Linked DNA regions of Homo sapiens: regions 2 and 3 are each linked to region 1. Evidence: fine-mapped expression QTL. A gene starts in region 1. Each other region holds a variant in brackets. All regions are shown on one strand. Distances are between the middles of the regions. Region 1 holds the start of PODXL2 (podocalyxin like 2). Region 2 overlaps PODXL2 (podocalyxin like 2). Region 3 overlaps LINC02034 (long intergenic non-protein coding RNA 2034).

What was found. PIP is the estimated chance that this variant, and not a neighbour inherited with it, causes the effect. A credible set is the group of variants that fine-mapping cannot tell apart.
Region 2: its variant is the best candidate, but not a certain one, in a credible set for the expression of PODXL2 in whole blood (INTERVAL, PIP 0.75).
Region 3: its variant is the best candidate, but not a certain one, in a credible set for the expression of PODXL2 in whole blood (TOPMed, PIP 0.60).

The regions. Positions count from the first base shown.
Region 1 is chr3:127,626,186-127,636,068 of GRCh38, reverse strand. It overlaps PODXL2 (podocalyxin like 2), which reads right to left and starts at 6,884. Exons shown (of 8, transcript NM_015720.4): 1 at 6,780-6,884. The coding sequence starts at 6,849. It overlaps LOC107986126 (a long non-coding RNA gene), which reads left to right and starts at 7,106. Exons shown (of 2, transcript XR_001740892.2): 1 at 7,106-7,263. RefSeq lists an enhancer at 6,182-6,241 and silencers at 6,642-6,771, 6,882-6,951.
Region 2 is chr3:127,657,916-127,667,798 of GRCh38, reverse strand. It overlaps PODXL2 (podocalyxin like 2), which reads right to left. Exons shown (of 8, transcript NM_015720.4): 3 at 6,640-7,421; 4 at 5,488-5,562. Among named protein-coding and RNA genes, the nearest start is that of ABTB1, 10 kb to the left of the region's middle. RefSeq lists a silencer at 1-4. The variant A/G (reference allele first, on the strand shown) is at 5,153.
Region 3 is chr3:127,552,634-127,562,516 of GRCh38, reverse strand. It overlaps LINC02034 (long intergenic non-protein coding RNA 2034), which reads right to left. Exons shown (of 7, transcript XR_007096067.1): 7 at 5,640-7,616. Among named protein-coding and RNA genes, the nearest start is that of MIR6825, 18 kb to the left of the region's middle. The variant A/G (reference allele first, on the strand shown) is at 4,547.

The sequences.
Region 1 (9,883 bases):
ATGATGTGCCATTTCCAAGGCTAGGCATCAAGATACCTTGCACGCTTCCATTCTCTCAGGATTCTGCTCAAGGCTAGCCTGCAGGAAAACAGGAGCCCATGCAGAAGAGAGCCAGATCAGCTCAGTGTCCTAGCTGAAGTCCCAAAGTGAGAGAGCCAGACAAGACCAGCAAAGGTGATAAACAGCTGATGACAAACTTGAAGGAGTTCAGCTGAGACCAGAACCACCCAGCTGACTGCAGCCTAAATTGCCAAACTACAGAATCATGAGCTAAATAAATGGCTACCGTTTTAATCCAGTGCTTTCAAACTTGAACCAGCATGGAATCACCATGAGGGCTTGTTAAAACAGAGACTGTTAAGCCCACCCTAGAGTTCTGAATCCAGCTGGTCTGTGACGGGGCCCAACAATTTGCATTTCTAGCAAGTTCCCAGGTGATGCTTCTGTCCAGGGATCAGATCTTAAGAACTGAGAATCTGAAACCACTAAATTTTGGGGTGATTTATTACACAGAAATAGCCAAATGATACATTAAGACAAATTATAAATCAAGTTCTCCTTTTGGATCAGAGTAGTGTTTGAATGGTTAAATTCCATTCATTCATCCATCCATTCATTCATTCTTCAACCAAAAAGCCTTTATTAAATGCTTATTTGGACTAGGCATGATCCAAGGCTATGTTGGTACAGAAATAAGAAAGATAGGGTCCCTGCCCCAAAAGGGTCAGTTTCTACTACAGAGACCAGCAAGAAAACAAATCATTATGGAATAGTGTAACAGTGACCATATAACTCTGTTTGAGCCACAGGGTTAGTAGGGCAGGGAGAGAGATCTCAAAGGTAGCTACTAACAGAACTGCTCATGGCACTGTACTAACTGTGCTCAGTACACTGTGAAGGAGAAAGGAGGCTGGAGGAAATAACAACACCGGGATCTCAGGAACATGTGTTCAGTTTCCCTTTCTCTAGGGTAGACAACCATGCCACTCAGGGGGGCACATGGCCGAAATGCCCCACACTTCACGATAAAGCAAAACAGCAGAGACGATACAGAAACATAGATGTGTAGACATGAGAGACGCCTCCATTAGAATTACAGTCCTCATAGTGCTTCACCGCTGGAAGAAAAAGAGAGCTCTTTTACGAACCCCTAGCAATTCCCCCTGCACTCATCTGTCCCGAACACTGCCCTCTAATCAGCGCTTCTCAGACTGAAATGTGTGTGAGTCACCCGAGTCTTCTGACACAGTAGGTGTGACTGATGCTGCTGGTCTGTGGACCACACTTTGAGTGACAAAGCTCAGAGAGGTCTTTTTATTTATTTTTTATTTTTATTTATTTTTTCAGACAGTTTCACTCTTGTCGCCCAGGCTGGAGTGCAATGGCGCGTTCTTGGCTCACTGCAACCTCCGCCTCTCAGGTTCAAGCGATTCTCCTGCCTCAGCCTCCCGAGTAGCTGGGATTACAGGCACCTGCCACCACGCCCAGCTAATTTTTTTTTTATTTTTAGTAGAGATAGAGTTTAACCATGTTGGCCAGGCTAGTCTCCAATTCCTGACCTCAGGTGATCTGCCTGCCTCAACCTCCCAAAGTGCCGGGATTACAGGTGTGAGTCACTGTGCCCAGTCAACTTTTTTTTTTTTGAGATGGAGTTTCTCTCTTGTTGCCCAGGCTGGAGTGCAATGGCGTGATCTCAGCTCACTGCAACCTTCGCCTCCCGAGTTCAAGCGATTCTCCTGCCTCAGCCTCCCGAGTAGCAGGGATTACAGGCATGTGCCACCATGACCGGCTAATTTTGTATTTTTAGTAGAGACGGGGTGTCGCCATGTTGGCCAGGCTGGTCTCAAACTCCTGACGTCAGGTGATCTGCCCACCTTGGCCTCCGAGAGTGCTGGGATTACAGGCGTGAGCCACTGCACAGGCCGAGAGGTCTTTTTAAAATGCAAATCTGGTTCTATCATTCTATCATACAGGTCAGATCCTTTGAAAAGGCGAGAAGGCTCTCATAAACTGACCATTACCTCCCCTCCCCTCTCTGCACCCACCTTCCCCAATCATACTCTACGCTTCAGACAAACTGACTACCTGCAATTTCCAGAACACAGCCGCCTCTTTTGCCTTCTGGGTCTTTGCATATGCTCTTCTGCTTGAACATCCGTATCTCCCCATCTCTGTCCTGTCCCACCACCCACCTGCTAATTCTCACTCCTGCCTGCAGTCTCAGCTTCCGAGAAGCTTTCTGTGGCCACTCCAAGTCTGGATGAGACACCACTCCTCTCTATCACAGCCTTCTCAACAAACTACTGTCACGCCACTTTTCTCACCAAATTGTAAGAGACCTTCATACAGCCTCCATTGTAAATGAGGAGTCCCTTGTTTCAATTCCACCCTGTAATTCCAGTGCCTAGCACAACCTTTTACACATGATGGGGACACAATAAAGGTTTGAATAAATAATTAGTAGTCTAATCCAACCCTCTTGTTTTACAAATGAAATAACTGAGGCCTGGTGGGATTAAGGTCAAACAGCTAGTTAATAGAGGAGCTGAAATTAGCTGGTTTCTCCCACACACACACACACACACACACACACACAAAATTTGTAATCCAACCCTCTTGTTTTACAAATGAAATAACTGAGGCCTAGTGGGATTAAGGTCAAACAGCTAGTTAATAGAGGAGCTGAAATTAGCTGGTTTCTCCCCCACAAAAACATCTTGTGGATGCTCCAGGAAGAAGAATGGAAAGCTATTACTTGTGGGGCTGGGTACCTTCCTTCCTCCAAAGGATACGTGAAGGAAGAGAATATGTAAAACAGCTTAAATATTTCATGTGCTTTAAGGGCCAGGGAAAGAAGCCAGAGCTAAAAACTAGAAGATACCCCTTTCCAAACACTCTGCCCAGGGTCCCCACAACCAATCCAATCAATTGAAGGAATCTCTTCTCTTGAAAAAGACCAAATTAGTAAAGTGATTCCCAATGTTTCACAAGCAAGAATCCCTTTATTTACATTTGCATGTGGCCCCTGTGTTTGGAAATGTTTCATCTATAAACTGTACTTATTTAATAGTTATTTTCTAATTTTTGAAAAGTGAATCAGAATCATGTAGTACTGCCAATCAGATGTGATCCAATTATAATTGAACTTTGGTTTCAGGTGGGCTGTGCTCTTATTAGAGGTAAAATTTCTATTAGACTCTCGATTACAAAGAAAAATACAGTCACTCCTGAGCTCCTATTCTGTGCCAAACAGTGTGTTAGGCCCTTCCTGGAGGTGCAACAAGAGACAGATGAACAAGAGACAGGCTTTGCCCTCAGGAAAATTACAAACTCTTGGGAAGTGGAACCCTAAGTTCTTTAGGGGATATGAGCCGATGTAGCAGACTGCTTTGCAAAAGCAGTATCCCCAGGGCTGGCAGGGAGCCAAAATACAAGAAACAAATCTGGAAAAACTCATTCATGCATTCCAGGAAGAAAAAAGTCAACTGATGGAAAATGTTTATAATAATTAAATAATACACATTGTATAGGTTCCCGGGGCACCCGGGCAGCCTGCCTTTGAGAGGGCCATGAACTGGAGATCTGTATCTGCATGCTCCAACCTCCAGCAGGTATGCTGGGAAAGATATTACTTCAGCCTTGTTAGAAAAGTGTAAACTGATTCTCCCTAAGAATTTTGAAATTCACTCTCTACAAAACCACTGAAGGATTAAACACGGGTTGTCTCTCAAACCTTGGCACTCTCTCTCGGAGCTGAACTGTGGCATGGCAGGGAGAGGCTGTGGCATGGCAGGCGGGGAGGCTGCTGCCGTCTACACCCTACTCTGGCTCCTCGGAATGGCTTGGAACTCAAGAAGACTGCTCTGCCCTCTCCAGGTCATTGTGCCCAGAGGAGCCTGTTTCCTTCCCCACTCTGGGGGATAAAACACTTTCTAGTCAGTCCAGCTGTCTGTGCACAGTACTGTGGTCTGGTGTGTTTGCTAGGCCCCTTCCCTGTCATTTCCATGGCTCCAGTGAGCCCCCACCTCTCTGAGCTCTCCCACCTGTCAAGCCAGGAACCCATAACCTTCCTCTAACATCTCTCCCTTTCCTTCTTTGTCTTCCCTTCCCAATGGTCTAATAGGAATTGGCAAAGATTTTGAAAACCCTACTGAAGAAAAAGGAATCTGGTATTTTCCCGGTTTTTCATTCCTTTTCCAGTAAACAGTTTCATTTTCTTAAAGTTATTTTTCCCTCTAATGACTGTTTTGTCTTTACATAGAACTTGATATTTTCAAAGGCCTTGGCAATGGGTATTTATTTAAGTAATTACAAGAGGTTACTTATTTTCAAACTTGCCCACCATAAGATGACACCAAAATAGTAGCTGAGACATAGCCATTCTGTGTATAATTAGTTTTGCACTTAATAATTAATCTGCCTTAATTGAGACCCCACCTGACTTAAAATTTCAGAATTACACTCTGCGTGTGATTGATTTCCTTTTTCCCTCTAGCACCTATAATTTTCTGTTACATCATCACACCCAACAGAGGAGAGAGAAAAAGATGGCACATGAAAAGGATTAGGGGATCAGCCTCAAAGAAATGAAAATCTGACCCAAACAAACACAGAAGGAGGCAAAGGAAGCAGGCTGACATTTGGGGAGGTGAAAAAAACAAGACCCCAGCGATCCTCATGTTTTATCTTACCTTTTCAAATCAGTCCCTGTGATCTGCTCCCGGTGCAAAACTCCTTTCTGATTTCCACCATCAGCTACACCCCACCTCTCCCCTAAGCAGGGTCTTTGAAGTCCAGTCTCCCTAAGCTCTTGGCAGACACCAACATGGGAGGGGCCCTGCAGCATCTGTCACACAGCTCCTCACCCTTAAGTGTCAGCGACAACAGGAACTGCTGAGCACAGTCACGCTACCTCCACTCTGTAAGCACCTGAGAAACAATGCTGACAGGTCCCTGAAGGGCTTCCACACAAAGGTGTGTAAGAAAGAGACACACTGCTAGACACACGCACATGCCCTCCAAGCAGGGGGTAAGAAGTGCGTCATGAAGAGCATGCACGGGAGAGAGGAGCCGGGAGGCAGGCTGCCTGCAGTCCTCACAGCTGGTCACATAAGCACATGGGCAGTTACAGCTGGGCCTGGGTCCATGAGGACGTTGCTGGCCAGTTCTGGTTTATGACTGTCACACAAAGAAATAGCAGACCAATCAATTGATGTTTATTTATTGAATGTCGCCTTTTTCCAAAGAGGATTTACGGCGTGAAAGAATACAGGTGGGTTTGTGTGAGTGTCTGAGCCAACACTGATGGACATGTTTTTCTGTGCACACCACCTAGGGCCTTTCTTCATCCCTAGACTGACTGTGGAGAAAATGTACCCTCCCTGAACTGAGCCTTCCCATGACATGCACAGGAATGTGCGAGGGACCACTTTCCCCTCCCAGCCATTTACCCTGGGATTCTGCCACTCTGAGTCCCAGGTTCATGGCCCACCTCAGGCAAAGACTGTTCCTCCCTTCCCATAGAGACCCTTCACTAGTTTCTCTTTCACTCACACACATCTGGACACAAAGTGCCTGTGTCTTCATGGGCCAGCTGCGTGGGAAATGTCCTGTGCACACTCCTACATGCACATACACACTCCTACATGCACATACACACATCATACTAGGACGCTATTTTGACGTGTGCATCAGAAGTGAAGTTACAGCTGGCTGATGAGTGTGCACAGGCACACATGCACACTTCCTCATCCGGGTATTCCTCCAGCAGCACCAGTCACACCTTAACATACACCGTAACACACTCCCTCTGCTCTGCCAGTGTGTGCAGGAGCTGCTCAGCTATGACCTTATTTGACCCACCTTTGCAGACAGCCCTTCTCCCCGCCATTTCCATAGTGGCCGCCTGCCTCATGGGCTGTCACACCCCATGCCCACCTCCCTACACACCCCCTCCACTAAATCCCCGTCTGCGCTGGAAGCCATCAGGAGGCCCGTCTCTTTCTCTCTCAGGCAGACACATCCCTTTCACACCTGTGCCACACCCCCAGCCCGCCACGCACCCACACAGCCCGCCGCCCGGCGTGGCTGCTGAATGGAAACCACACATCTGAGTCTCACACCTCCCTCGTGTGTGAGCTGCGTGGGAGCCTCCCGCCGTGTGCTGTCACGGGCCTTCCGTGGCTGTACGCCCGTTTTTGTCAGCTCCTAATAGAGTCGCCCAGAACAGGAGAGAATACCCATTCACCGTGACACACTCACACTCCCTCCCGGCAACGCCACGCGTAAACAGCCACCCGCGCCTCAGCGTACCCGCCCCACACTCCGCAGGCGGCCCCTGGGACCTTCACAATGCGGCCTCCTCCCCGCGTGGCTGTCACACACGCCTCTTCCCCCGAGTGCGCAGGCACACAATGCACTCGCACACACACAAGCACACGCACACACATGCACACCCACACGTGCGCGCCCCCCCGGCCCGCGAGGCAGCAGCCTGCGCACCTGCCCCTGAGAGCCGCGGCGTGGGGGCCACGGTGCTGTGTCCCAGCTTCACCGCCGCGCCTTTGTCGGGGGTCGCCCGGCACGCCAGGCGCCCGCCGCGGCCCCCACGCACCCACTCCTCGTGCGCGTGTGTCGGGGCGGCGCCGCGGCCCGGCCGGGACACGCGCGCTCCCGGCGGCGCCGCACTCTGGCCCCTTTGTTGGCGGCCCGGGGAGCTGTCCAGCACCGCGCCCACGCCGCCGCCCGCCCTCCCGCGCTCGGGCCCGGAGCGCACTCACCCCCAACCAGCAGAAGCAGCAGCGGCGAAAGCAGCGGCGGCAGCCGGGCGGCCCGCAGCAGCCGGCCCATGGTGTAGCCGTCGCCGCCTGCAGCCGCAGCGGCGCGGCGCCCGGGCCCGCGTCAGGGGCCGCGCGGGCGGCGGCGGCGGCGCGCGCCCGCCCCATTGGTCCGCATGGCCGTCACTCACGCCCGGCCCCGCCCGGCCGCGTGCCGCGGGCGCGCCCCCGCGGAGACGAAGCGGACGCGCGGGCGGCCGTCCCTCCGCCCGTCCCCCCCGCCAGGCCGGCCAATCAGCACCGCCGAGGCTCGGGGGCTTGGCCCGGCCGCCCGCAGACCTGGGCCTCGCACCTCGCGCCCGGATGCCGCTCTCTCCCCGCGCGGTCACCCGTTCCCTGGGAAGCAGAGTGGGCAGCTGTGGCAGATGGGACTGATGGGACGAGGACGACGCGTGGAAATGACTGTGAGGGTGGACAGAGGCCTGGGGTAAGGAAAGACTTCTCAGGGTACTTAGATTGGGTGAGCCCTGAAGGAGAACCTGAGAGCAAAGAACTGGACTTTAGAGCTAGGCAGTCTGGCTCAGGATCAGATTGGTTCCGAGACCTTGAGTAAATCTCTTCTCACCTCTGGGCCCCACTTGCCCCATTTGCTAACTGGGGGGTTTTAGATTATGAGAGAGGTGCTGACTTCTCTAACATGTGCTCCCTTTTGGCAACTGAAGATCCTTAATATGCCAAGCACTGTAGTGGTAAATAAAACAGGCACATCCCTCGTCCTCATAGTTTAGGCTCGTAGAGAAAACAGACTGAAAAACAAAATGGACACACATATGGTCCTATGATTGCAATTGGTAGTCGGTCTGTTAAGGAGTATAAGGGGCTAGGAGACAGCACAGAGGGGAACCTTATGCTTGCCTTCCTGAAGAAACAGCATTTAAGGTAAGCTGGCTGGCATCTGGAAGGATGAGTGGGTATTAGGTAGGAGATTGGGTTTGGGAGAGAACTTACAAGGCAGAGGGAAAAGCTCACTGATAGAGTTCCTGAGTTAGAAAGAAGCTCAGCCTCTTTTAGGGAGAGAAAAACCCCGACTACCCTTTTAGAAGTACTGCAGCTTAAATATACAGCAACCACAATTTTGTGGAATGTTACTTTATATATACCATATTAGGAAAACACTTCTTTAAAATAACAAATCGTTATTTGAATATGCTTTTTCAAAGTATATCCCCACCCCCCTATGCAGGGGTATAGCATCAGACATTGGAGATAATCTCACGGGACTCTTCCAGACTAAATATTAATACTTAGGAGAAATAGGAGTTGGGGTGGAGGAGCATAGGGAAGAAATGGGTTCCAGACAAAAGAAAGAACATGAGCAAAATGTAGCACCTTTTATTTGGTGGGTGTTAGGGGTACTAGAAAAGTGGCTGTCAGCTGGGCTTGGAAAAGAGAAATCCAGGGTGTGTCTAGACCCAGCTTCCCTCTTCTTTCCTCCTCTGAGGATGAAAGGAGCATCCCTTTGGTTTTTTGTTGTGTTTTGTTTTGTTTTTCTGTTACAAGAAACAAAGATCTTAGAAGCAAACAAGAAATGGAAGGAAACGTCCTCAATTCCATTAAGGGTATCTCCCAGAAACCTTTATTATCATACTTAATGGTGAAACCATACTTAATGATGAAACATTAGAAACATTCTCTTTTAAGTGAATGGAACAAAATAATCCTCACTACCACCACAATGATTGAATATTCTATAAGAGACACTGCAACAAGGCCTGATAGAAGAAATGGGATGAAAGTATTGGGGGAAAACTCATTATTTGCAGGTTTATCTAGAAAATGCAAGATCATCAGTTGGCAAAATAATTGAAAACCAATGAGTTCAGCAAGATTGCTGAATAAAAGATAACGTACAGAAATCAATAGCTTTTCTGTGTATCCTCAATAACCACTTAGAAAATGTAGTAGGAGAAAAGATCGCAATCACAGCAACAATTATTAAAAACTGGAATAAACCAAACCAGATATGTAAGCTCCAAATGAAGAAAACTCTAAAGCTGCCAGGGGTGGTGGCATGTGCCTGGAATCCCAGCTACTTGGGGGAGACTGAGGTAGGAGGATGGATCACTTGAGGCTAGGGGTTTGAGACCAGCTTTGGCAATATGGTGAGACCCCCATCTCTAAGTAAATCAATTAGCCAGGTGTAGTGGTGCATGTCTGTAGTCCTACCTACTTGGGAGGCTGAGGTGGGAGGATCACTTGAGCCCAAGAGTTCAAGATCAACCTGGGCAACAAAGCAAGATGCCATCTCTATGAAAAATTTTAAAATTAGCCAGGCATGGTGGCACACACCTGTAATCCTAGCTACATAGGAAGCTGAGGTGGGAGGATTGCTTGAGCACAGGAGTTCAAGGCTGCAGTGAGCTATGATTGTGCCACTGCACTTCAGCCTGGGTGACAGAGTGAGACTCTGTCTCAAAAAAAGAAACAAAAATTTAAGTGAAGGCAATCCTCAGAATGGGAAGAAACATTTGGAAATCATGTATCTAGAATATACAAAGAATTTTTACAAGTCAGTAATAAAGACAACTCAATGTTTTAAAATGGACAAAGATCTGAATATACATTCCTCCAAATGTCAATAAGCACATGAAAACATGCTCAGCCTCATTAACCATCAGATAAATGCAAATCAAAACCACAATAAGAAACCACTTCTCAGGCTGGGTACGGTGGTTCACGCCTGTAATCCCAGCACTTTAGGAGGCCGGGCTGGGTGGATAGCTTGAGGTCAGGAGTTGGATACCAGCCTTGCTAACATGGCAAAACCCTGTCTCTACTAAAAATACAAAAATTACTCTGGCATGGTGGTGCATGACTGTAATCCCAGCTACACAGGAGGCTGAGGCATGAGAATTGCTTGAACCCAGGGGGTGGAGGTTGCAGTGAGCTGAGATCACACCACTGCACTCCAGCCTGGGTGACAAAGCGAGACTCTGTCTCAAAAAAAAGGAAACCACTTTGCGTCTCACTAAGGTGGGTGGCTAGAATTAAAAAGAGAGACCACGTGTTATATAGGATATGGAGAAAGAACCCTCCTCGTACACTGC
Region 2 (9,883 bases), 32 kb before region 1:
GAGATGGGAACCGCAGCCCCTGGAGCTGGGCTGGAACAGAGGGAGGGGTGTGAGGAGACCTTTTCTCATCGTGCACTCGCTTGTATTGTGAGGTTTTCTTGACCATGTGTACGTGTAATTCCACAATTTAAAACAAAAATAAGAGCCTGGCCTTAAACAGAAACTCAACGAATGGCAAGAGCCCAGGCTGGGGCACAGGCCAGAACCCTGCCTCCTGGTTCACATCCTGCCATTTGTCCCTGCCCAGCCCCATCTAGGAAGATACCCTCCTTTGGCCCTGTGGCCACTCCTCACTCCGGCTCCTCCCCAGCAGCCTTCTCCCTCCTGAACATGCACAGTCACACATTCCCTGCTCGTAGCCTCCACAGCCTGCTGCAGATACCCCTCTCCCAGGTGCTCAGCTCTCTCACAGTGCCCTGCTATGCAGCTGAGAGCCAGCGCCACTGGGAGGCACGAGCATCTCACCAGGCCAGCCCTGCAGGATCCCCTGCCACTCCAAATCTCCCTTCTGCTAGAGCCCAGGCTAATGAGCTGTTCCGTAGTTGTCATGCCAACCTAAAGGCTACCAGAGGGATTGAAATGCTGGGCCTCTGTTCTTTGTTACCATGGCAAATGCCAGGCTCAGGCTCAAGCCTTGGCACTCACTGGTCTAATAGCCAGCCAACTGAGTTTTAAATGTGGGAGAAGATGGGTACCTGGAGATGGCCATAGAGCAGATGGAAACCCCTAGTTCTGTGATGGTTCTTACTTTATTCACTGATTGAGTATGGGGGGAGAAGGAGTGCATGCCCGCCCCTGCCAGAGCAAGGGTCCATGCACCATGACCCACAGACCCCTGGTTACAAAACAAGCACTCTCCTGCCACATGAAGTGCCTGCCCTCTGTGCTGTGGCTCTGTGCTCTGCTGTGTTTGCACACCCCATGTTTTCCTGGGTACATATGTCTGCCTGGCTTAAGCCCAGAGACCCACAATGTCAGTGTGGGAGGATCTGATGACTGCAGATTTCATACCACTTATTATGTAGACAGGAAAACTGAATGTCCGTGGCAAGGGGGAAAAGCCCTGACTTTGGAATCAAATAAATCTGGGTTCTGGCCAGGTGCACTGGTTCATGTAATCCCAACATTTGGGAGGCCAAGGGAGGTGGATCACTTGGGCCCAGGAGTTCCAACTCCTGCACAGACAACACGGCAAACTCCGTCTCTACAAAAAATGCAAAAAAATTAACCAAGTATGGTGGTGCACATCTGTGGTCCCAGCTCCTTGGGAGGCTGAGGTGGGAGGATCACGTGAGCCTGGGCAGTTGAGGCTGCAGTAAGCTGACATTGTGCCACTGTACTCCAGCCTGGGTGACAAAAATAAATAAATACATTGGTTCAAATCTTGCTTCTGCCATTTGTCAGCTCTCTGTGATGTCAGCAAAAAAAAAAAAAAAGAAGTACCTCTCTGAGCCTCAGTTTCCCTATTTAAAAACATGGGCAATGGTCCTGACACCCTACCTTACTGTGAATAAGTAAAGTACTTATTCAATCACAGGTGCTGGGACAACTGGATATCCCATGGAAAACAAAAAAAGTTCCTTGATTCATACCTGACATCATTTACCAAAACTAATTCCAGATGGACTACAGATCTAAAGTTTGTAGCAGTAAGCACAGGAGGACATCATCCAGTGGTGATGGATTAGAATTGGAAATACTGAATTTGTACTTTTAATATGTGTACATGCATTATACATGATATATGTATATCTATGCCCTAGAGAGAGACAGAAATAAAGATCCATATTGCTCAGTTCTTCTAGAAGGGCCTAGAAGCAGTGACACCCCAGTAGCCATGAGCACACCTGGGGCCCAGATCTTAGTTTCTAAATACCTTTCCTCATTAAAAGGAAGCAGGACTCCTTGCAGAAATGGCTAAATTGGGGGCTGGGGCAAGGAAAGTCCCATGCAGCCTGGAACATCTTGTAAGCACGTGTGTGGCATGCACTGAGAAACTCTGCAGCCTCAGGCAAAGGACTGGCGCCTCATCACTGTGTCAACGCTGCTTCTTTATCCAGATCTTGATGATCCAGCCCTTTGCATGGAAGCTCTATTTCAGGATTTTCACTAAAGGATGATCCACATATTTCTCCTCCTTGTCCTTATCCTCTAGCACTTCTCTCTGTTGTGCTAGACAAAGGATCAGATCCTTGCATCTCTACAGTAAGGATTTCTTTTGCCTTCTAGAACTCAAAAACACCACCTCTGGATTTCCTGTTTTATCTTTCTTCCTCCTCTCATGTTTCCTTCTTAGACTTCTTTCCAGTTTCTTCTATGTTACCTGTGACATCTAGGTAAAATAGAAGCCACTGAGCCTGCATCACTTTCTCTAGATCTTGAGGGCTGAACTCCTGGAACTCCTGTAGTTCCATCGTGTAAAACTTTCCACAAGAGACTGCCAGCACTTTTCTCCCTGTCTTTTTCTGAATATGTAGTCTCTGTATAGCCCATCAGTTTTTATGCACATTTATTCCTTTCATTTTTCAAATAAGTCAAGGTCATTAAATGCAAAGAAAGGCCGAGGAACTATTCCAGATTAAAGGAGACTAAAGAGACAAGACAAATAATGTGATGCATGACCATGGATTATATCCCGGCATGGGAGGGAAGAAGGCTATAAAGGACATTATTGGAACCATGGTGAAATTGAAATAAGGTAGGTAATCAGATAATAGTTTTGTAGCAGTGCTAATTCCTGATTTTGACCATTCCATTGTGGTTATCTAAAAGAATATTCTTGTTCTGAGGAAACACAAACTAATGTATTTGGGGGTAGGGGCAAAAGGAAATAATGTCTTCAACTTTTTCTCAAATGGTTTGAAAAAATTCTAACAAGTGGTGAATCTGGCAAAGAAACTAATAAGTATGTTGATAAAATATAGTAAGCATTGACTGTTAATAATAATGACTAATGCTCAACATCACCAATCATCAGGGAAAATGCAAATCAAAACCACAATGAGACCATTTAGGTTGGTGCAAAGGTAATTGCGGGTTTTGTCATTACTTTCAATGGCAAAAACCGCAATTACTTTTGCACCAACCAAATACCTCACTTCTCTCAGGATGGCCACTGTTTAAAAAAACAGAAAAGAACAAGTGTTTATGAGGATGTGGAAACACTGGAACCCTAGTGCTGGCGAAAATGTAAAATGGTATACTCATAGCGAAAAACAGTATGGAGATTCCTCAAAAAAATTTAAAATAGAATTACCATATGATCCAGCAACCCCACTTCTGGGTATATACCCAAAATAATTAAAAACAGAGTCTTGAAGATATATTTGCACAGCACATTCCCAGCAGCACTATTCACAATAGCCAAAAGATGGAAGCAATGCAAGTGTCCATGGACAGCTGCATGGATAAATAACATGTGGTATATACATACAATGGAATATTTTTCAGCCTTAAAAAAAAAAAAAGAAATTTCTGCCACATGCTACCAAATGGATGAACCCTGAGGACATTATGCTGAGTGAAATGAACCAGATGTAAAAATGACAAATGTTGTCTAATTCCACTTCTATTAGGTATCCAGAGTAGTCCCATTCATAGAAACCAAAAGGAGAATGGTGGGTGCAAGGAGAATGGTGGGTGCCGGGACTGGGGAACAGGTAGTCATTTAATGGGTACAGAGTTTCAGCTTTGAAAATGAAAAAGTTCTGGGGCTCTGTTCCACAACAATGTGCATATACTTAACACAACTGAACTTATATTTACAAAGGGTGAAATGGAAAATTTTATGTTTTTTACTACAATAAAAAAAATCTACCATAAAAAATAATGATGACTAATTGAGTGGAGGTCACATATTAGAATAACACAGAAGACAAAAACAGGGAAAACAGAATAAAAGCATCTTAATATCTATGTATTGATTGGCAAAAAGATACGAACTTTAGGCTGTATTGTTCAAGTATGCACACCAAAAGTTCAAGGGTCCCAAGTACCCATCTGTGGTCTTCATGTACCATTTCCCAATGAAGGGAATGAGGGCTCCATGTCTGGGGGAGGAAGGTGAGCCTGGAATGTCTTATTATGCCAGAAAGCAAGGAAGCAATCAGACACTTAATAGATTGGTCAAAAGGACTCAGAGGCCAACTCAAAGAGGCTTTCCCTGGCCAAAGATGAGGTATTGAGCATCAGTAAAAATAATAACTGCAATGGATGAAAACACACATCACTTAGGTGAAGATCCATCAGTATAGTGATGGTGGGGGAAACCAACCTTGCTGGGGACTTTTGGATTCAACGCATGCATGTCCCTTCAGTCTTGCCCAGGCCCACTAACAAGAGTAAAGAATTTAAGGCCTAAAACCAGAGACAAAGCAAAACAGAAGAGGAGACAAGAGCAACAAAATCTAGACACTGGAAGCAGATGGTGAGTTAGAATTTCCTAATTTAGCAAACTCTAAAGAGCCAAACCCTAAGCCAAAATGAGGAAAGCTGAGAAGCAATCAGATGCATACTGATTGACACTCCCCAGATGCCCCGGAATAGGGGCCCTGGTTACCTTTGGAAGAGGGGATGAAAATGCTACTAAAAATATGAGCTGGTCGAAAGTTTGCTTAAGAAACGGCTGGGTCCCTAGTTCTTCCCGCAGTGCTGCACAGCCAAGAAATGTCCCTTCTCCCTGGCAGAAGACTGGAAGTTTATTCTTTAAAAAAGATAAAACAGAGGGTCTCTGACCTAGAGAGCATCAGACACAAGTGTGTGTTTTGGGGAGGGAGAAGGTCACTCTGCAAACAGGAAGAGACAGTACATGAATATTGATATTTATGGATACATATTTATAATACTGAAACACCCAGCCCTCTCTCTCCACCCCAGCTCCCAGAACACTGACAACCAACTTGTTATACTTCGAACAGAACAGAAGTTCCCTTTTCAAAGACTCTAATCACCTCAGGAGGAAGGACCTAACAATGCTGCCATTGCAAATTTCTAAGTGATACGGCCCAGCCAGACCACTCTCATGAGAAGCCATAGCTGACAACCCTAGCACTATGCTCAAAGCTTCCAGCCACTTTTTCGATAGAGAGAGCTATGAACAAACTCCACCAGACATGTGTGGAGAGCATGTATATATATGAAAAGGCTGAGACCC[A/G]AAACGGAGAAAAGCAACCTATACAGGAAGAAAACAACTCTAAAAAAGACAGAAAGGTTTCAATATCACGGGAGAGGTAAGATGGTGCACACATGAACAAAGTATTCATTTAAATTAAAAAGAGAGGGAAGCAAGAACCAAAGAGCCTTTGGACATTTTAAAATACGAAAGCTCTCTGTGTGTAATGTTGATGGCTGCTGGTATATCCCTGGGCCACCAACTGAAGGACTAAGCCTTCTCCCACGCACTGCTTGTCCCCCCAGCCTGCCCTCTGCCCCACCCTGTCCACTGCCTGCAGCCTTTCCCTGCGGTTCGGAGCCTGGCTGGGCACTCACACAGTCTATGTTCTCTGTCATGTTCAGAATGATGTAGTTTTTCCCAGCCAGATTGCTCCAGTCCTTGCAGATCACCTGTGCGAGGAGACAGAAAGAAGGGCGACAGTTACGAAGGCATAGGAAAGGGACAGGGGAGAGAGCCCCGGTCGGAGGCCTTTTGGGAAGCTGGAAGGTGGAGGCCAGTGGAGGCGTATTACAGCGAGGGGGCTGCTGACAGCCTCTGTGAGGCACCATGCCAAGGAGTACAAACTCGAATGTCTTTGGGGACCAAGCAGGGAATGTATTGAGTGAGAGGAGGAGGCCAGGCATTATTCCCAGGAAGTAGGGGACTATATCAAAGGGGCCAGGCTGCAGAGAGCTTGCCCCACATGCTGGCTTTCAAGGGCAAGTTTATTGTTAATATTCTGGGGCTCCTTTCTTTTCCTTGCGGTGTCAGTGGGTGTGAACACTGACTTGTGCCTGCTATGCACATGGGTGTCGGTGGGGAGGAGGAGGGTGGTGAGATGGGATGGGGAAAGCACAGGTCAGCCACTAGCTCTAGCTGCTGGTAGAATCAGTGCAGAAGTCTAAGTGTGGGCTGGGTGCGGTAGCTAATGCCTGTAATCCCAGCACTTCAGGAGGCCATAGCGGGTGGATCACTTGAAGTCAGGAGTTCCCGACCAGCCTGGCCAACATGGTGAAACCCTGTCTCCACTAAAAATACAAAAATTAGCCAGGCATGGTGGCACATGCCTGTAATCCCAGCTACTCAGGGGGCTGAGGTATGAGAATTGCTTGAACCTGGGCGGTGGAGGTTGCAGTGAACCGAGATCATGCCCACTTCACTCCAGCCTGGGCGACAGAGTGAGACTCCATCTCGGGAAAAAAAAAAAACAAAAGATGTCTAAGGGTGGCAATGGTAACACATGAACAAATGAAACCCAGGCCAGGCCACCAAGTTTCTCCAAAGGCCTTTGCACAGAAGTGTGGGGAGAACACCCATTGTTGGCCCTGAGGTTTGCATCCCCACAAGTTCCATGGGGTTCTACGTGCTGTGGAAAGGGCCTCCCTCCTCAACCTGGCAGATCCTGCCCCCATGCCACACTAGCCCTGGGGATGGCCAGGCTCTGTGAAGAAGGTACAGGGTGGTGGCCCGCATGCCCCTCACTTTACCTGCGTAGAATCCCAGGGTATCCTGGATTGAGCTTCAGCTGCCTGCCCTTCTAGGAGCTGCTGGTTGAGATCTTCTTGTCCCAAGGTAGCAGAGGAAGGTGTCAGTTCCATGTCTCCAGGGGCCAGTGGGGAAGAGGCTGAGGTTCTAGAGCCAAGGGGATCTTCATCTGGGTGCTCGGCCCCACTGGGAGCTGTGGTTTGAGGGAATGAAGGCAAGGCCGGCACCTCCTCGTGCTGGCCAGACAAACCAGCTGCTCCTGCAGTGGCTTCCTCGCTTGCTTCCTGAGGAGCCTCGAACTCTACCCCAAGCCCTGCAGCTGGCAGCACTGTGGCCTCTGCCTCTTGGCTGGTGGAGTCCTGGTCCCCCGGAGTCACTGTAGTTGGGGTGACTGAAGGCAGCAGCAAGCTGGGCCCCATGCTGCTCTCCACCTCCACACCTGATGAGGCCTGGTCCCCGGAGTCTTCATGCCTGCTTTTGGTGGCCCCTGGGGTCTGGCTGCTGCTGGTGAGAGAAAAGTCACGGACCTGAGGCTTGGCTTCTTCTTGGGATCCATTCACAGGGAGCAGCTCCTCCTCTTCCTCCTCCTCTTGTTTCTCTACCTCTTCCTTCTCCCTCTCCTCCTCTTCCTCTTCCTCTTCTTCCTCCTCTCTGGGAGGCATATGCCAGGGAGGCTCAACCAGATTCATCTTGGGCAAGGGAGAGGGGAGGTTTGGCAGCTCTTGAGCCTGGCTGGTGTCTTCAATGGAACCTGCCTTCTCAGTTAAGTCAGGAAAAACATAATCTAAGGACAGAGATGAAAAGTTCATTCACTTGTTTCATCATTCATTGCTTTACTCAGTATTTACTGGGCAGATGGCATAAAAGAACCACAATACACTGACAGGGCAGGGGTCATCAGGTCATGATGGAGAGGCCAGGGGAGCAGACTGTGGGAGGACACAGGGACAAGGCTAGTCACTGTTTCCTTTATGATGATAAAATAATACAAATTTATCACCAAAACTCAATGAACACAGGAATGTAGAAAGTTTTGTATATTGCATTCCTCCAAAAGAGCCATGAGTAGTTTGAGGTATATATTCTCCACTGTGTTTGTAATGTGCTTGCTTGTCCTCATCTGGGGATTTCACCAAGAAGATCCCACAACAACCCACTAGGAAGGGTCCCCCTACTCCTTTTCTAGTGAGTCGTTATAAGAGTCTTCTTGGTGGAGTCCCCGAAGGAGGTCTGAGAGCCCTCTCATCACTGGAGGAAGTGAGACCCCTCAATTATGACCATTGTTCCTCAACTGTGCTCTTTTTCTGTAATTTAGGCCCTGACAGGAAATGAAAAAGATGTAGGGAGAGCCAGAGAGAGGCCAGGGGCTGAGCCCAGAGTTTTCCAGGGCCTCCCAGAATGTTCAGGGTCACTGTTGGCAATGGGAGAGGGGTTTTTATTCTCCCTGCCATTCTTGGGAATTACATTTTGAAGCAGAGAAGTTAGGAGACTTCCTGGAGATCAGATTGTTTTCTGGCTTTTCAATGAACCCTAGGCCTCTTCCAAATAACTATGCATGAAAGTTATACAACAAGTTTTTTGGAAATTCATTCAAAATATCAGAAGCTGTATCTAGGAAGCAACTTTTATTGGCTGCCATTTTGTTTCAAAATAATAAATATTGTAGTTTTAAAATACTCTTTAGAAAGGAGAGTGGTGGGAACACTTTAAGATAGCGAACTAAAGGTATTCATTTACCTCCTCCTCCAAAACTTTTATCAAATGACAAAAACAATTTTAACTGTCAAAATGAAGATAAAAACATTTTAGAGAAATTTCTGGGAACATGGAAAGCAGATGAGATTATAGGAACAGATAACCCCTCAGCCAAAATAAACATAGGAAAAAATAGCAGGGGAGGAGGCAGGCTTTCTTACCCAGAGTTAGGAAGAGGCACAACTGTGGGAGCAAGGATGTAGAACACAGAAAATTCAGAGAACAGAAGGTAATTTTTAAAAGTCTAATTAGTATCCTCAGAAAGATTACAAAATATTGCATCCCTAAAATAAGACGCCACTCAGAAAATCAAGTAATCTTTAAAAAAGAAAAATTTCTTGGATATTGAAAGTCAATAGTTGATATTTAAAAATTCAACGGATTGAAAATTCAAATTTTTAATGGCTGGGAAAAAAAAAAGTCAAGGAAAAGCCTCTAGGGCAAAAGTGAGAAGACAACAGATAAGAGTTAAAAGATACAGACAACCAATGTAGGAGATCTAATACCTAGCTAATATGATTTCTGGAAAGATAGAACCAACAAAATGGAGAATAATGGAGAGAAACAAAGAAAAAAAGTTTCAGAGCTGGCAACATGAATCTTTGCAATGAAAGCTTGTATCATCAAGGTGAATGATAAAAGACTTACACCTAGCCTCATTCTCATGTGATTTTAGAATTATAAGGAGCAAGAGAAAATCTTAACAGCTCTCAGAGAAAGAACAGGTTATCTGTAAAGGAACAAGAAACAGATTACCAAATTATCATGAAGCTTCTAATTAATATCAGTAGCCTAGAGGAAGAATTTAAAAATGCACTGAAAAATCTGAGGGATGTTTATTTTGAACCTGAAATGTTATATCCAAATAAATGACTACTCAAGTGTGATTGCAAAATAAAGACATTCTCATACATGCAAAGATTTAAAAGTGTTACTATCCACAGATTCCAAGAGATTTAAGTAAGTTATTTAAGAAACCAAAAAAAAAAAAAAAAAAAAAGACATGGGAAATCAAGAAACATGAGAGGAATGCAATGAAAATATATCTCAGGATGGAAACTGTGCAGTAAGCCTGGAAAGCAATTGGTTCAAATTAGAACACACAGAGAGAGCTCTGAGAACGATTATTTCAAAAAGAAAAATTGATTCCCTGTAATAAAAAGTATGACTTAGAAGCTGAACAATCCTAGTGACAACTGAAAGCCCACTATAGTATTTAAATCAATAATTAGAATATTCTATCCAGTCCACTTCTGTTAATTAGACTTTTTGAGTAGCAGATCCTCCCCCTCTTCCACCTACTGCACACACTCTGTAGTGAAGTCACTACAGATAAATAAGAAAGAAAGAACAACCAAGATTCACAAGACATTTTAAGAAAGCCAGCCTGATGAAGAAGCATAAGGGTGGGACCATAAAGCAACTGACCTCTAGGAAAAGTTAGTCTAGTTAACAAAAGAGAATTCAGAAAAGTTTCTTGTTAATATCTTC
Region 3 (9,883 bases), 74 kb after region 1:
GCTGCATGGATCCTCAGGGGGCAACTCGAGCTCTGGGAACCATCTTGCTGGGATGCACTCCTCACATTCTGGGCCTATCTCAGAGCCATTCCAACTGGCCCCATTTGGCCCATGGGGGTTGCTAACAGTGCGTCATTGATCCAACCTCTCTGATTCCATCCCATTTTGGGAAACTGTGATTTTCAGGCCAGAGGGACACTGCCAGATCTGAACAGACCGGCTGGGAAGGTCAGCACTATGCAGAGGGAGGCAGCCGTGTGAGGGAAATAAGTCGGATGCTTGGGTTGCAAGTTAGACCCTACTTCTAAGAGTGACCTTGGGTGAGTAATTTTACCCTCTGGGTCTCAGTTTCCTCTTCTGTAACATAGGGACGATAATATCTCTTCCTGTCGGGTATTAGCCGATCTATAAAATAGCTGTTGCTCAGAAGGCTCTTGACAACTGTGGGTTCTCCAAAGAGACGAGAACTTGGCTTATTTCTCCAACATCTATGTGTGTCCTCATGCTAGAATCACATTCACAGGCCTCGGCTGCTAGGAATGATTCTGCTCACTGCCAGCTGAGAGGGCAGGGACCCAGATGAAGTTCTCTTCCAGAATAAGTCAGCAATCTGTCCAAGATGGGGAAGACTTGCAGGATGGGGAAGACTTGGCGATAGAGCATATTATGTGAAGAAAGAGGGTCCAAAGTGGTCACTGGCTGACTTGTTCTATGGAAAGGCCCAAGCTGGCAGTGAGTCCATGGAACAGGCAGCAGGGGGTGGGGAATATGGGGCTGCTCCACCTGGCTGTGAGACAGCGCGGAGTGTGATGGCTATGTTAGGTCTGATCTGCCACTCCAGAGCCTGCTGCAGCCAGCCTGGGGAGCAGCTGGGTTCCTAAAACTGTAATAGACAGTGGTGGCTCCACAGAGCAGGCACACCTAAGGGGAAAATCAGCATTGCATTGGGAACGGTGAGGTGACATCACAGAACCTGAATTCTCACTCCTTCTGCAGATTCTCCTTCTTCTTTTTTTTTTTGACAGAGTCTCACTCTGTCGCCTAGGCTGGAGTGCAGTGGCACAATCTTGGCTCGCTGCAAGCTCTGCCTCCCAGGTTCACGCCATTCTCCTGCCTCAGCCTCCCGAGTAGCTAGCTGGGACTACAGGCACCCGCCACCTCGCCCGGCTAATTTTTTTGTATTTTTAGTAGAGACGGGGTTTCACCGTGTTAGCCAGGATGGTCTCGCTCTCCTGACCTTGTGACCCGCCTGCCTCGGCCTCCCAAAGTGCTGGGACTACAGGCACGAGCCACAGCGCCCGGCCAGATTCTCTTTCTTTACCTCCTTCTCTGCTCAGCATCACCTTCCCAGAGCAACACAGCTGAACAACCACACTAGAAAGCAGCCCCTTTTGTTGTTCATCTATCCACACAGAGGAAACAGCAGTGAAGAAACCAGACAAAAATCCCCACCCTGAAGGGGCTGATATTCTATTGTGGGAGGTAGATAATCCAGCAGACACACATAGAATCTGCAGAGGTTTATACAGCAGTGAGTGCTAGAAAGAAAAACAAGCAGAGAAGGGGAAGGGGAATTGTTGGGGTGGGGAGAAGAAGCAGAAAGTGTGAATAAACTGTGCAGGAAAGACTTAGGAAAAAGTGACTTCGGAGTTAAGATATGAAGAAAGTGAGGGGGCTTCATTGTGGGTATCTGGGGAAAGAAGTGGGCAGCCGAGAGTATAGTAAGTACAGAGGGAACATATATCACCATGGAACAGTAAGTGCAGGGGAACAGTAAGTGCAGGGGAATAATAAGTGTAAGAGAAACAGGAAGTACAGTGGGAACAGGAAGGGCAAGGGGAACAAGGAGAGCAGGGGAATAGTAAATGCAGGGAAATAGGAAGAGCAGGGAAACAGCAGTGTAGGGGCACAGAAAGGGCAGGTGAACAGTAAGTATGGGGGAAGAGTAAGTTGGGGGTAACAGTAATTGTAGGGGGATTAGGAAGTGCAGGGGGACAGGAAGTGTAGGGGAACAGGAAGTGCAGGATTAATAGTAAGTGCAGGAAACAGTATCAGCAGGGGAACGGTAAATGAGGGGCAAATAGCAAGTGCAAGGAGGCACAGTAAGTGCACGGGAAGAGTAAGTGCAAGGGGAGCAGTAAGTGAGGGGACAGTAATCAAAAGGTGAATAGCAAGTGCGGGAGAACAGTAAATGCAGAGGTAACAGGAAGTGTAGGGGCAACAGGAAGTGCAGAGGAAATAGTAAGTACAAGGGAACAGGAAGTACAGGGGAACAGAGGTGTGTAAGCACAGGATGTCTGGGGACACAGGAAGTGCAGGGAACAGTAAGTGATGGTGGAACAGTAAGTGCTAGGGTACTGTAAGTTCAGAGGAAACAGTAAGTGCACAGGAATGATAACTATAGAGTCCTGCTGTTGTTTTACCCCTGAGACTCCTGTTCACAAATTAACTGTGCTAACTTGTTTGTTAACACAGTTTCTTGTTGATCTCCCTTATTGTGTAAGTTCCATGAAGGCAGGGATTTTGGTATGCTTTGTTTACTGCTCTCTCCCCAGTGCCTAGGATAGTGACTGGTCTTATTGAGTGCTCAGTAGCAATTTTGTTAAAGGAATGGATGGATGAATGAATTGGTGGGTGCTGTAGGGTGGGGAATGCTGAAGGATGGGAGGCTATATCTGATGTTTGACAGTGAAATCAAGCAGCACAGTCCCGATAGCTGGGGGTGTGTGGCTGGGGCTCAGGGCTGAGGCCACTGAGATGGCTCCCAGGGAAGACAGATTCTGATCCAGGACCAGGAATGCCAACCCGGGGCAGCTTGAGATAGGCCACACTGATGGCTAGAAGGGCCAATGCTCTGACCAGGGCTGGCTGGTCAGAGCATTCCATCCTGAACGTGCCTGGCCTGATTAGATGTTCCAGCTGGCAATGCCTGAGGGTATAGTGCATCCTCAGGAAGTGCTAGAGCTCTGGGGCAGGTGGGCATAGGTAAGGGGCCTGGGGTAGGAAAGGGGAGTGTTCTCTTCCTGATCTCCCATGTCAAGTATCATATAAAGGGACTCTGGGGACCATTCCCTTCCAGTCCCCAGCAGAGTCTGGTCAAAGGGGTGTGATGGCTGTGTTGTAGTATTTGTGGTTTGGATGGCCATATAATTTATTGTTCAAATCACCAGCACACCTTTTTGGGGTAACATTTAAGATATATTTTAAAAATAATTTCAGATGTACAGAAAAGGCACAAAGATATTACAAATAACTTTTTTTTTTTTGAGACAGAGTCTTGCCCTGTTGCCCAGGCTGGAGTGCAGCAGCATGATCTCGGCTCACTGCAACCTCCACCTCCTGGGTTTAAGCAATGCTCCTGTCTCAGCCTCCCAAGTAGTAGCTGGGATTACAGGCACCTGCCACCATGCCTGGCTAATTTTTGTATTTTTTTAGTGGAGACGGAGTTTCACCATATTTGTCAGGCTCGTCTTGAACTCCTGACCTCAGGTGATCCACCCACCCTGGCCTCCCAAAGTGCTGGGATTACAGGGGTGAGCCACTGCGCCTGGCCTACAAAAAACTTTTATCTCCTGGACCATCTGAGAGTTGCTGACATGATGCCCAACACCCTGAAGCCTTTAGTGTGTTTTTCCCTCTAACAGACCATTCTCTGCAACACAGCCATCCAAATCAGGAAAGTAGCACTGAGAGGACACCAGCATCTGATCCCCAGACCCCACTGAGGTTTTGCCAATTGTAGAATATCCTTCGAACAAAAGGATCCAGTTCAGGACCACACGGTGCCCTGAGTTATCCCATCTCCTGAATCTCCTTTAGTTAGGAACATTGTTCAGTCTTTCCTTGACATTCATCAATTGGATGCCTTTGAATGTTATCCTCCAGCATTTTTTGTTTTTTTGAGATGGAGTCTTCCTCTGTTGCCCAGGCTGGAGTGCAGTGGTACAATCTCGGTTCACTGCAACCTCTGACTCCCTGGTTCAAGCGATTCTCCTGCCTCAGCCTCTCGAGTAGCTGGGATTATAGGCACTCGCCACCACGCCCAGCTAATTTTTGTATTTTTGGTAGAGACTGGGTTTCACCAAGTTGGCCAGGATGGTCTCGATCTTCTGACCTCGTGATCCACCAGCCTCGGCCTCCCAAAGTGCTGGGATTACAGGCATGAGTCACCACGCCCGGCCTCCTCCAGCATTTTTAAAAAAATAGAATGCCCCTCAATTTGGGTTTGTCTGCTGCTTCCTAATGATTAGATCAGGTTTTGTGTTTTCAGAGGGATGGCACAGAAGGGATGTTGCGTTCTCCTCACTGCACCCCATTGGGGTCCACAGTGGCAGTTCGTCTTATCACTTGATTATGGAAGGAGCCTTCTTCCCTGTAAATGTGGGAAATGTGCTCTTCCCCTTTGCGAGTAACATGCCTCTGTGGGGAGGCAGTGCTTTGAGCCCAGGTGCATCCTCTCTTCTCCCTCCACCTTCCATTTGCCAGTTTTTTTTTTTTTAAATTGAGATGGAGTCTTGCTCTGTCGTCCAGGCTAGAGTACAGTGAC[A/G]CGATCTCAGCTCATCACTGCAACCTCCGCCTCCTGGGTTCAAGCAATTCTCTTGTCTCAGCCTCCCGAATAACTGGAATTACAGGCATGTGCCACCATGCCTGGCTAATTTTTCTACTGTAGTAGAGATGGGGTTTCACCATGTTGGCCAGGCTGGTCTCGAACTCCTGACCTCAAGTGATCCACCCGCCTTGGCCTCTCAAAGTGCTTGGATTACAGGCATGAGCCACTGTGCCTGGCCCTTACTTGCCAGTTTTAGTATCCTTTGATTCTTGCCTGAAACAATTGTTCCCCAAGTGGCGGCCAAATAATGACTTTCAGATCACATACTCCACCCCTTCCACATTTACCAGTTAGCTTCCACTGTTAGGAAGAGCATTCTCTTCTCCCCATGCATTCATTTATTTTAAAATTTATTTACATTTATTTTTATTTATCATTCAGAGGAAAACAGGGACATTTTTGAGAGTGGAAGGGGCAATAGGTACATATTCAGGGATGATAGGTATAAACCAGGACTGTCCCCAGAAAACTGGGAGGTGCGTTGACCTGTGACACCCCTCACCCCCACTCCAGCCGGCTTCTGGGTAAGGAAAGCGGCTCTGCTACCACTCCAAAGGGGATGCCTGCCTGCCCAGTTCCAGGAGCCAGGCCTTGGAAATTCTCCTGACACCCCCTACTCTCTCATCCCCATATCCATTCTGTCACCAAGTCCTGTGCATTTTACTTCCAAAATGTAGCTTCGATCTACCTGTTCCTTCCCACCTCCACCAGCCTGGTCCACGCTGCCATTCCCTCTCCTCTAGGCCAACACTGTCATTTCTATTCTGCCCCATCCTATTCCATTTGCACACTCAGTCACAGAGACCTTTGAAACACACAGATCTATTCGGTGGCTCAGCCCCCTCCCTCGGCTCCCCTCTGGCATGGCCCCCATGTGCTCCTCCCCTCCCTCCCCATCTACGCCCCAGCACCCCAGGCCCTGGAGCCCTCAAACTCCCAGGTTTCCAACCCTAACCTGCCAGCCATTGAAGCTTACAGATTCTTTGTAGTTATACATTTTTATAGTTACAAAATCATTTTTTCACAACCATTCAAAAACGTGCAACAGTTGAAATTTTATTGGAAGGTAACTTTGGCACCACTGTCACCTTTCAGATTCAGTCACAGCAGCTGTGCCCAGTCGACATCCCACCTGCCACCAGAGGGCTCTCTGTAGTGCCACAGGTGGTCCTCATCCACTACTGCCTGCCCGGCCGCTTCTCATCAGTGGTGACTGTCAGGAACCCAAAGGACTGACCCCTGAAAAACATTCCTGATCCCGGACTGTGCTTAGTCAGCTCAAGCATGAAACCTGGTACATTGGTATAAAAAAATTTATGCTTGTAAGGCTGGTTGCGGTGGCTCACACCTGTAATCCCAGCACTTTGGGAGGCCAAGGCAGGCAGATCAGGGTGGGTCCCGGTTAGGTTGGAAGTTTGAGACCAGCCTGGCCAATATGGTGAAACTCCGCCTCTACTAAAAATACAAAGGTTATCCAGGCATGGTGTTGTGCGCCTTTAATCCCAGTTATTCAAAAGGCTGAGGCACGAGAATCACTTGAACCCGGGAGGCGGAGGTTGCAGTAAGCCGAGATCACACCACTGCACTCCAGCCTGGGTGATAGAACGAGACTCTGTATCAAAATAAAAAAAAAGAAAAAAAAAAGTTATGCTTGTAGAAGCCAACTCAAGATTAATTTACATATTTAAAAATATTTTCCTTGGAAATTTAATACACATCCAATATCGATTATCTTCTTTAAGTACTTTGTATCTTATTCTTCCTGTCAAGCTTTGCACTATAAAGGTGATGTCATGCTTTTCTGCCATGCCTCATGCAGGTGGCACCTCCTTCCTCACCCCCACGTCTTTTCCAGGTGAGCCGCGATGCGCAAAAGGTTGGGATGCCTGGCACAGGATGCCAGCTAGTCGATGTCTTTAGAATGCCCCTGCTGTCTCTCCCGGGGCTAAATCCTATTCCACCGTGAGCCTTCCTTGACCAGCAGAGAATAGAAGCGCCTGGTACATACAGGCCACCAAAGGTATCTGTTGAACAGACATGCACACGGCTTCTGCCGTGGGCCAGGAGGGCCCACTCAGGAGCCTGGGTACTTTCCCTCCATAGGCCATGTATTCCTGTGAACAGATGAATAGGGCAGATGCTGCTTTTATCCCTATTTTACAGGTGATAAAGCTGAGGCTCAGAGGGGCTTAGAGACTTGGCTAAGCTCAACAAGCTGCTGGGAAGTAGTAGAGCTGTGATTCAAATCCAGGCATTCTGGCTCCAGGACCATGCCCTTAGCTGCTGTCTCTTCATGCGCCAACCTTTGTGATGCTGTATTTGTTTGTAGTATATGACTATTGTGACCTCTGTGGGGGCACTTAGCACAAGGCCTGGTCCTTGGTAGGTGCTCAATACATATTGTTTAAATGAATGAATGAAAGCAATTATTGTTCCTTTAGATGATCAAAATTTCCACTCCACCCTAAGTTCCCCTTTCATGGAATGAAGGGATACGAGGCTAGGGAAAGTCAGCTTGGGACACTGATGGATTCTCAGAGGGCAGAGCTTGGCCTTCTTGGCCTGCCAGTGGGCAGAGAGACCCTCCCTACCCGAGGGGGCCAGGGAAGGCTTTGCTATGGCAGCGACATTGAGATAGGGTTTTGAAGGATGAGTGGGAGTTCACTGAATCTCAGAAGTGCAGCCTGATGGAATCTGGGGTTGGAAGCAGCACATGTAGTGAAGGGTCAGTCTCATCTTCAAACGACCTCCCCATCATTTAGGCTGGAGGTACAAAGCAGGACTATAGGAACATATACAGATGGCTGTGAACCCGTGACATGGCCAAAGGTTTCCTCTCATCCCTTTTGCTGAATCATTTAGTGCTGTTCAAAGACAAGGCGGTTAAGCCTTGTTCCCTTCGATGTCTCTCACTTGGAATGGATGCTTCTGGCTGCCAGCTGCTCTCCTCCTCTGTGGCTGGAAGCATTTTGGGTTTCTGGGGGTCTTCTCTGAGACTGCAGTTATCCTAGGCATGAAGCAAACATGAGCATCACTGTCTGCTGACCTCTTAACTGTGGGCTGCAGATGAGCAGATGGGGCAGGGGCACAGGGAGCAGGGTGTGGCTCCAGAGAGGAGCTGGAGATCTGGGTAGGGTGGGGACAGGTGGGTGGCCTGCGACACAGGCTAGCTGGCAAGCACCACAGTCCCATGGCCACAGGAAGGACATGTGATGTCAGCTGGCACAATCTGGGGACCAGAACCAGGAGACAGATATCAATTCTGAACGGACTTCTTTCAACACCTGGATCCACCTAGCCCCAGAGTCCTGCACTTCACAATGACTCAAAATCCTCCTGTGCTGTGAAGCCAATTTAGGACGGGTTTCTGACTCTGGCTACAGGAGGTTCCAGGGCAGAGGAGAGTTGGCTTGGTTCAGGGACCAGAGTGAGGCCTGCAACCTCTCCCATGGTTGTGCCCAGAGGAAGAAAGACCATGCAGGCTCAGAAACACTCCCGGATGTCCCTGGCTACTATGCAGAGGAGGGGCAGAGCTGAGTAGTTTTAGAGACTAAGGTTGAAGAGAAAGCACACATGCATTCCCTTTATGCAAAAACACATGACAGATTTGCACTGGGACCTGCAGGAACCACAGGCTCAGGCCCACAGACACAAGACAGAAGAGCACACACACACACACACACACACACACACACACACACACTTCAAATGGTTTAAACTTGTGCTGCAAAAAAAGTACACGCCCTTTGACCTAAAAATTCCGTTTCTGGGAAGCTATTCTTAGGAGAGAACTAAGGATGTGTACCAAGACTCAGATGCAAGGAATATCCCTGCAGTGCTGTTTGTAATAATAAAAAGCTGGCAACAATCTAGATTCTAATAAGGGGTGCTGAAGTCCGCTGTCGTTGGAGGGCACAGTGGCATGCTATTCAGCCCTCAAGAGGAAGTACGGAGCTGTTTACACAGAAGATGAGTGTCATTTATTGTTGAGTGCAACAAAAAGCAGCTTGAAAAATAATCTGAATGGTATGAGCCCATTTGGGTAAGATAGAAGTCAGAAGCAGCTTGGAAGAGGGGCTGAAAAATTTGCTCGGTTGCGGGGGTAATCATGGTTGTTTCTGGTTGCTTTTTTCTTTTTTTTTTTTCAGACACAGGTCTCGCTCTGTTGCCCAGGCTGGAGTGTAGCAGTGTGATCATAGCTCACTGCAGCCTCGACCTCCCAGGCCCAAGCAATCTTCCCACCTCAGCCTCTGGAGTAACTGGGACTACAAGTGTGTGCCACCATGCCTGGCTAATTTTTTAAATATTTTGTAGAGATGGGGTCTTACTATGTTGTCCAAGCTGTCCTTGAACTCCTGGCCTCAAGCAGTCCTCCCACCTCGACCTCCCAAAGTGTTGGGATTATTGGAGTGAGCCACTGTGCCTGGCTTCTAGTTGCTTTTGAGTCGGTGGGATTGTGGCATTCTTTCTTTTCCTGTAAGGGAATCAAGAATTGCTTTCTGGGGCCAGGCACAGTGGCTCATGCCTGTAATCTCAGCACTTTGGGAGGCTGAGGCTGGCGGATCACTTGAGGGGAGTTTGAGACCAGCCTGGCCAACATGGCGAAACCCCGTCTCTACTAAAAATACAAAAAATTAGCTGGGCATGGTGGTGTGCACTCGTAGTCCCAGCTACTCAGGAGGCTGAGGCAAGAGAATCACTTGAACCTGGGAGGTGGAGGTTGCAGTGAGCCAAGATTGCACCATTGCACTCCTGAACTCCAGCCTGGACCACAGAGTGAGACTCTATCTCAAAAAAAAAAAAAAAAAATTGCTTTCTGGGTAGGAAAAAAAGGGAAGGGAAAGGAAGGGAAGGGATTGATTTTGAAAGGAATAGGAATTCTATACACATATACCTCCATATATACAAACTTGAAGTATGGATAAAGATTGAGATTGCTATGTGGGTTATAAAAGCATGAGGTTGGAAGTAACTTATATGTCTAGCAATAGGGGATTGATTAAGAAATCAAAGTACAGTCTTTCAATGGAATTGCTATGCAACTGTTCCAAAGATTGAGGAATGTCTAGATAAGCTCTGGTTAGTAAGAGTCTCCGAGATGTATTGTCAAAACCACCACCACCACCAACAGCAGCATAATGTTTATAGTATGTAATCATTTGCATAGAAACAATTTTATGCACATGTAAACATAAACTGTCTCTGGAAGGACCCATAGGAAACCGATAGCGGTGTTTGTCCCTGGGGAAGGGAACTGGTGGTCTGGAATCAGCG